Linked DNA regions of Homo sapiens: all the other regions are linked to region 2. Evidence: fine-mapped QTL for protein levels in blood plasma. A gene starts in region 2. Each other region holds a variant in brackets. All regions are shown on one strand. Distances are from middle to middle.

Region 1 (2,763 bases), 14 kb after region 2:
TCTTCTAGACCCTGGGAATACAGTAGGGAATAAGGCAGAGAAGACTAGTGCTCTCATGCAGCTGATGTTTCACTGGAAGAGTTATTATCAAGCTAGTTGATGTAATTGAATTACATTATGTTGTACATGTATTTGTATATATGCTATACTGCTGCCAAGTTTAGGTTGCAGCTATATAGCATTTGGTTAATAATCCCAACACTTAATCCTATCAGACCAGATTTGAATTTCAGCTTTGTCATTGACTCTGTGGTAGCTAAGGGCATGACATGAAAACATGCTTATGTTAAATTGCCAAATGAAAACGTGGACTATAAAATGGTAGATATTGTATCACTTGGTGTTTATGTATTCATATATCTATAAACACTTAGAAAATAGATTAGAGACCAAGTATGAAGATTCTACAGTGGTTCTCCTTACCCCTCCCCCAGCCTTGGCTGATGAAATTAGTATTGCTTTTTATTTTTATCCTTATACTTATTTTGTATTTTTCAAGTTTCCATCAGTGAACATGTCCACTCAGCTAAGACTCGTTCAACCGACCTATGTCACGGGCACCTTCGCAGGTACTGAATATCCATAGTGAAAAACCCAACTACACTGTTCCTGTCCTGATTGGGATTCCAGTGTTCAGACAAGGACAAATAACAAATATTTTATTTATAATATAGTTTAGAGTTTATAACCCTCTCTCTTTTTCTTTCTCTCTCTCTTTCTCTCTCCTTCTATGGACTAGAGGGTGCGATGAGAATGAGGAAGTGGTTGGTTGCTGAAGCCAATTCTGTACACAAACACAACACATATACAACACACACACACAATACACAAATACACCACACACACACCACATACATACACCACACAGACACACACACCACACACACACATACACAGACCACACACACATACCACACACATACACCACTCACACACACACACCCCCCACACACCCCATATACTCCATACACACAGCACATACACACACCACACACCCCCAACACCCCCTCACACACACACACCACACACACACCACACATATACACACCACACACATACACCACATATACCACACACACACACTCTCCACACACAAGACGCACACCCCCCCCACACCACACACACATACACACACCACACAGCAATACATATGCAAACACATAGGTACACATAATGCATACAAATTAATAAAGATTGCAATGAAATATGCTCCATATTCCAATAATCCTTACTCTGACCTTTTTCCCCAGTGTGATTCGTTTCTTCTCAGGCCTGCTTATCCATCAGGATTAACCAATGGAATTTAGGCAGTTGACCTTGAGAACTAGAGGCCCTACTAATTTCTGGTGAAAGAAGTTTCTTCAAGATAAGGAAGAGAAAATGTTCCATTTTCTCCTGTAGCTGCTAGATCAGCAGTTAGGATAATAAAAGCTGTACTTACAAAAGTTCTTTCTTTTTTTTTGAGATGGAGGTCTCAATCTGTCACCCAGGCTGGAGTGCAGTGGTATGCCTGCAACCTCCACCTCCCGGGCTCAAGCAATCTTCCCACCTCAGCCTTTTGAGTAGCTGGGACCACAGGCATGTGCCACCATGCCCAGCTAGTTTTTT[G/T]TTTTTTTTTTTTGTATTTTTGGTAGAGATGGGTTTTGCCATGTTGCCCAGGCTGGTCTCAAACTCCTGAGCTCAAGCGATCCACCTGCCTCAGCCTCCCAAATTGCTGGGATTACAGGTGTGAGCCACCGCGCCTGGACACAAAAGTTATTCCTAACAGGAATTTTGTAAAACAACAGCAGCAACAACAACAACAACAACAAAAAACACCTCAGAGATTGTTACTATGTCCTGTGAAACCCTATAATATCTTATTTAATGTTTAGACTTTAATCTATACCTTTGAAACAAAATCATTATTTTGATGGAATCTACTAGACTAGAAAAAAATGATGTTGGATTGTGCCAAGTTTTGGCAAGGATGTAGAGCTATAGAAATCCTCCTGTACTGCTAGAGCATGTAGATGGGTTATCATCCTGGAGAGCAGTGTGACACTTGGAAGTAAAAGAAAGACATATGGACTAACAATATCACTCTGTTGATATACACGGTGATGGCAATGGTGGCCTGCCTGGTGTGGGCACTGCCAAGATGCTGTCAGCAGCAAGGAAGGCGCAACTGGGCTGTGGGCTCTGCAGAGCCAGAGAGAGCCAGGAGCAGACAGGAGCCTTGCCCTCCTGGGTGTGGCTGCACCTGCCCAAGCTGTGGCTGTGGACCTGGGAATCCCTGTCCTCCCCTGTGCTCTTGAGGGCTGGGAGCAGGCAGGAGCCCCACTCTCCCAGGTGTGGCTGCAGCTGCCCAAGACATGGCTGCGGACCTGGGCCTGCACTCTTGGCCCCCATCCCTGCAGGCTCGGAAGTGCCTACCACTGCTGCCTGGCCTCTCCCCACTCCCGGTGTTCACTCTGATCTCAGAGCAAAGTTGAGGTCAAGCCTGGGCACTGTCATCACCCGGCTGGGAGTGCACACACTTGGGGCAGTGCTGACATGCCAGCCCCCTGCTGCCTCAGCCCCCTCTGGACTTTGGGCATTGATGAGCACAGGAGGGAGGCAAAGGTGGCTGCTGAAGGCAGCTCAGTGATGGCCTGCAGGTGCCCCTCTGCACAAACAGCCTGGGCACCATGAACAGTGGCAGGAGGCAGACAGGCTCCTGGGCAGAAAGGCGCAGGTCCCTGGTGAAGCCCTACCTTTAAGCCAGGGATGACTGGAAGCCTG
Region 2 (2,763 bases):
TTTTCCCTGTATATAAAAAGTTTCTCTAATGTGATAAATAAAAACACAATAAACCAGTAAAAAATGACTACTTTGATATGAAGGTATGAATTCACAATTCCTAGAAAATAGAAATAGCTCTTAAACATGTGGAAAGATGTGAAACCAAAATCATAATAAGAGAAATGTAAATTAAAATTACTTTGAGTTTTATTTTACTCACAATTTCAAAGACCAAAAAGTTTGAGAGTATACTGTGTGAGAGACAATGTGGAACCAAGTTCTTTCACTCATTTCTGGTGGGAGTAGAGATTGATACAGCCCTCATGGAAGGCAATTTGCAACATATAAAAATTTATAAAATCTAGGGCCAGGGACGTTGGCTCATGCCTGTAATCCTAGCACTTTGGGAAGCCGAGGTGGGCAGATCATTTGAGGTAAGTGGGTCGAGACTAGCCTGGCCAACATGGCGAAATCCCGTCTCTCTTAAAAATAGAAAAATTAGCCTGATGTGGTGGCATGTGCCTATAATCCCAGCTACTCAAGAGGCCGAGGCAGGGGAATCTCTTGAACCCCGGAGGTGGAGGTTGCAGTGAGCTGAGATCATGCCACTGCACTCCAGCCTGGGGGACAGAGTGAGACTCTGTCTCAAACAAACAAACAAAAAATTTATAAAATCTGATACTTTTTCACCATGGAGTTTCTTCTGTAGGAATTTATCCTAGAGATATATTTGTACATGTGCAAGAGACATATGTACAAGGTTAATAAATGCACCATTATTTGTAATATCAAAAGGTTAATAACTGTCAAAACAGCCATTAATATTGTATAAATTATGGTCCATCCATGCAATGGAATACTGTGTAGCTGTAAAAAAAAAAAAAAAAAAAGCAACAAGCCCGACATGGAAAGACTTCCAATAAATAGTAAGTTTAAAAGAAAGTGCAGAATAATACATATTTATATGAAAAAAGAGTTTTTATGCCTCAAAGGCCTTCACCCTTGATCTTCTGGTGTTATTCCTGTCCTTGTATTCTCCCAGAATCATTACCTCATCCCATGAATGGTACAGTCAAGTCTTGCTTGTTCTGTGTCCTTACATTCTTTAGAGAGAAGTCACAAGAGACAAGCAAACATCTCTTTTGCTAATAATATTGATCACTTCCTACAGCATAATATCTATGTGCAATTTTTTGGGAAGACCTCCTACTAAACAGTTAAGAATGGAAAGACACAAAGAGAAGAAAGTGGAGAAAGACCTCTGTCTTCCCACACTGGATTTTGCAAATACAACTCTTCTGTGATACAGGAAACTAAAAAGAGGGAAAAGTGGCAATTAAGAAAAACTGCCAGAAAATAAATACCTTGATGACCCAATTTGGAAAACTACTTCTAGATAAGGAAACACTATTACCCAATATGTTAATTTTTAAAATACCCAAAGAATTGAGCAAAAAGGACTTTGGCAAGGCAGGTTGTTGGATTTAAAACCGTTCTCCCATTAATGCCAAAGCCAGCAGAGGTACCAACTATAGCTCCACGGCCAGAAGATACCAGCAGCTCTGCCTTTACTGAAATTTCATCTGGAGAAAGGTCCACAGGTGAGGTTTCTTCCAAGGAGTAATTTCTCTTATTTGACTCTTTTGAGATCCTTTTCTCACATAATTGTCAAATTTCAATTGGAGAGAAACTGTGTTTTCTACCTCATTACGGGGTCAGTGCTGAGGAGAGTAGGAACTCAGGAAATGCTTCTTGATTGACTTTAGTCTGCTGTATTGGGTGACAAATTGACCACAGACCAAATAACACGTTGGAATCCTCTTATTCTTTCTAGAGATCTGGGCTGAGAATTAAGGGTTTATGCTTCTTCTTAAAACCCGTTTCAATCTTTCATGCAGTTATGATTCTCATACAAACAAATGGAAATGGGGAATTAGTCTTTCAAATTCAGTCCTTTGGCTGGCACAGTGGCTCATGCCTGTAATCCTTTGGGAGGTTGAGGTAGGAAGATTGCTTGAGGCCAGGAGTTCGAGACTAGCCTGGGCCGAACATACATACCAAGACCTTGTCTCTACCAAAAAAAAAAAAAAAAAAATTAGCTGAGTGTGATGGTGCACGTTTGTAGTCCTTAATACTCAGGAGGCTGAGGTGGGAGGATCACTTGAGCCCAGAAGGTCGAGGCTGCAGTAAGCCTTAATCATATCATTGCACTTTAGCCTGGGCAATAGGAAAAAAAAAAGAAAGAAAGAAAGGGAGGAAAGAAAGAAAGGAAGGAGAAAGAAAGAAAAGGAAAAAAAGAAAGAAAAAAAGGAAAGAAATTCAGTCCTCAAAACATAGATCTGTGTTTTTTTTTATGATCCTCTGCCCCTGTCTTTCTTTCTCTTCAGCACAATGAGGCTTTTCACAGGCATTGTTTTCTGCTCCTTGGTCATGGGAGTCACCAGTGAAAGCTGGCGTTCGTTTTTCAAGGAGGCTCTCCAAGGTAAGAACTCTGGAGGATGGAGGGCACATACCCAGGATTCATTCTGAGCAGGGGCCACATACTCACTGGATGTGAGTGCTCCTTAGAGAAGCCACACAGAGGTCAGAGCAGGAGTGTGGTTTTCTGTATCTGTTTCTTCCTCTAGGCTGGTCTGATTTATCACCCTCCCTTGGGGTTTCCAGACGAGAGGTTAAAGATGCTTTGGGCCCAGCCTGTACTCTTGGTGTAGAGTGCAGAAGGATAAAAACTTCCAGGGGGTTATCTCCCACTGCGGAAATTTACAGATGGCAGATTTCTCA
Region 3 (2,763 bases), 21 kb after region 2:
CCCCATCTCTTTCTGTACCTCCTCTTTAAGGCCAATAACTCTTGGATTTGCCTTTCTGAGACTGTTTTCTAGATCCTGTAGGTGTGCTCCATTGGTTTTTATTCCTTATTCTCTTGCTTTTTTGATTATTATTATTATTATTTTTTCAGACAGAGTATCACTCTGTTGCCCAGGCTTGCTGCAACCTCTGCTTCCTGGGCTCTAGTGATTCTTGTGCCTCAGCCTTCCAAATAGCTGGAACTACAGGTGCACATCACCACACCCAGCTAATTTTTGTATTTTTAGTAGAGATGGGGTTTTGCCATATTGCCCAGACTGGTTTCAAACTCCTGGCCTCAACCAATCCACCCACCTCAGCCTCCCAAAATGCTGGGATTATAGGCATGAGCCCCTGCACCCAGCCTGTTGAGTATTTTCAAATAAGCTGTCTTCAAGCTCACTAATTCTTTCTTCTGCTTCATCAGTTCTGCTATTAAAAGACTCTGATACATTCTTCAGCATGCCAATTGCATTTTTCAGCTCCAGAATTTCTGTTTAATTCTTTTTAATTATTTCAGTATCTTTGTTAAATTTATCTGATAGAATTATAAATTTATTCTCTGTGTTATTTTGAATTTCTTTGAGTTTCCTTAATGCAGCTATTTTGAATTTTCTGTCTGAAAAGTCACGTATCTCTATTTATCCAGGATAGGTCTCTGGTGCCTTATTTAGTTCATTTGATGAGGTCATGTTTTTCTAAATTGTGTTGATGCTAATAGATGTTCTTCAGTGTCTGGGCACTGAAGAGCTAAAGTATTTATTGTAGTGTTCTGTCTGGGATTTTTTGTACTCAACTTTCTTGGGAAGCCTTTCCAGATATCTGGACAGATTTGAGTATTTTGATCTAAACTGTATGTGTTTTAGCAGGCATCCCAAGACCAGTAAAGCTGTGGTTCTTGCAGACTTGTAGAGGTACTGCCTTGATGGTTTTGGACAATATTCAGGATAATTCTCTGGATTACCAAGCAGAGACTCTTGTTCTCTTCTCTTACTTCTCCCAAACAAATTGAGTCTGTCTCCCTGTTCTAAGCCACCTAAAGTTGGGGGTGGAGTGACACAAGCACCCCTGTGGCCACAACCACTGTGACTGGTCTGGGTCAGACCTGAAGCCAGCACAGCACAAGGTCTTGCC[G/A]AAGGTCTGCTATAACCACTCTCTGGCTACTGCCTATGTTCACTCAAGGCCCTGGGGCTCTACAATCAGCAGGTGGCAAAGCCAGTCAGGCCTGTGTCCTTCCCTTCAGGGTGGTGAGTATCCTCAGGTTCCAGGTGGGTCTAGAGGTGCCAACCAGGATTCAGGGACTAGAGTCCAAAACCTTAGAAATTTACCTGTTTTCTATTGTACTACAGCTAGGGTGGCACTCAAACCACAAGATGCAGTTGTTCCCACTCTTCCCTCCCCTTTTTAAAGGCAAAGAAGCCTCACCCCGTGGCCACTACCACCACAGGCTTACAGGTAGTACCACCAGACTAATACCAATGTTCCCTTAAAGCCCAAGGGCTCTTTAGTCAGTTTGTGGTGAATGTTGTGTGGCTTAAAAGTCACCCTTCAGAGCAGTGGGGTCTCCTCTGTCCAAGGGCAGGTCCAGAAATGCCAAGAGCCACGTCCTGGAATTGGGCACCCCAACAGCCTGCTTGGTGCTCTACCCCATGTGGCGCTGGTGGCACCTGTGCACCAGTGCAAGGTGAAGCCTCCTTTACTTTTTCCTCTGATTTTCTCAAGCAGAAGGAGTTTCACTCCATCGCCACCACTGCTGGTAATGTGCTGAGTGTCACCTGAAGCAGCAAGTCCTGAGGCTCACTCAAGGCCCTCAATATAGTACCTGGGTATTGCTGCTGGTTATTCAGGGCCCAAGGGCTCTTCAGTTAGTGGGTGATGCATGGCGCCAGGACTGGGTTTTTCTTTTCAAAGCTGTGGGTTCCCTTCAGGCCAGGGTGTATCTGGAAATGTTATCCAGGAGCCAGGGCCTTGTGACTCTGACTAGTGCCCTATTTTTCTGTGGCTGGGTGGGTATTCAAGATGGAAGACAAAGTTCTCCCCACTCTTCCCTCTCATCTCCTTAAGTGGAAGGCTGAATTCTCTTTTGGAACCACAAACTGTGCAGCCTGGGCTTAGGGGAGGGTGATACCAGCACTCCCTTAGCACCCCAGCTGGTGTCTCAGTAATTTGTCTGCCCCTACGTGCCGTCCTTGCCCAGTCCACTGTGTCTGGGCCTGATTCAGCACTAGGACTCACCTAAGAGTTGCAGTCTGTATTAGTCAGAGTTTTCTTTCTTTCTTTTTTTTTTGACTTGAAAAACAAACTTTATTCCAAATTATCCAAAAAAAGTGTTAACTCTGGAACATTTAACAGATTTCATTTAAACTCATATGGTCATAAAACTCAAACTATCAAACAAAAATAGCAGTGTGTGCTTAACCACTTTTAATAATGAACCTTTAAGAGGAAACATTTAGAGACTCCCACAAAATTTGGGAGCCACTAGGCAACATGTATTTAATATTAAACAAAGACAGCATTAAAAACTAAAAATCCTCAAATTTCAAGAGAATGCCTGTTCAAGTCTTTGATATGCATTTGCACATGATAAAAGAAATATTTTAATTTAAAAGAAACCAAGTCTGAGTGCTTACCCTTTCTTCAAATGTAATCTCCTGTTCTCCCTTCATATTATGACTGCATACCCCTCACTCTACTTCATCTACACTGAACCAGTGTTAGTTCAA

Which allele goes with the higher level. Alleles are on the strand shown, and positions count from the first base shown. The strength of an association depends on the size of the effect and on how common the allele is.
With allele G in place of T in region 1, the plasma level of the protein whose gene starts at base 1,498 in region 2 is higher (strong association).
With allele A in place of G in region 3, the plasma level of the protein whose gene starts at base 1,498 in region 2 is higher (moderate association).

Evidence for each region. PIP is the chance, under the fine-mapping model, that this variant and not a neighbour inherited with it causes the effect. Protein levels are from antibody-based Olink assays in UK Biobank. Linkage for the fine-mapping came from a reference panel and not from the study's own genotypes, which makes the PIPs less certain.
Region 1: its variant is fine-mapped to the plasma level of the SAA4 protein (UK Biobank, PIP above 0.99).
Region 3: its variant is fine-mapped to the plasma level of the SAA4 protein (UK Biobank, PIP above 0.99).

What each region holds. Positions count from the first base shown.
Region 1 is chr11:18,221,221-18,223,983 of GRCh38, reverse strand. No RefSeq gene overlaps it. Among named protein-coding and RNA genes, the nearest start is that of SAA4, 14 kb to the left of the region's middle. RefSeq lists an enhancer at 2,008-2,508. The variant G/T (reference allele first, on the strand shown) is at 1,609.
Region 2 is chr11:18,235,537-18,238,299 of GRCh38, reverse strand. SAA4 (serum amyloid A4, constitutive) reads left to right here and starts at 1,498. Exons shown (of 4, transcript NM_006512.4): 1 at 1,498-1,583; 2 at 2,370-2,464. The coding sequence starts at 2,374. SAA2-SAA4 (SAA2-SAA4 readthrough) reads left to right here. Exons shown (of 6, transcript NM_001199744.2): 4 at 2,370-2,464. It also overlaps a transcript of SAA2 not described here.
Region 3 is chr11:18,214,101-18,216,863 of GRCh38, reverse strand. No RefSeq gene overlaps it. Among named protein-coding and RNA genes, the nearest start is that of SAA4, 21 kb to the left of the region's middle. The variant G/A (reference allele first, on the strand shown) is at 1,172.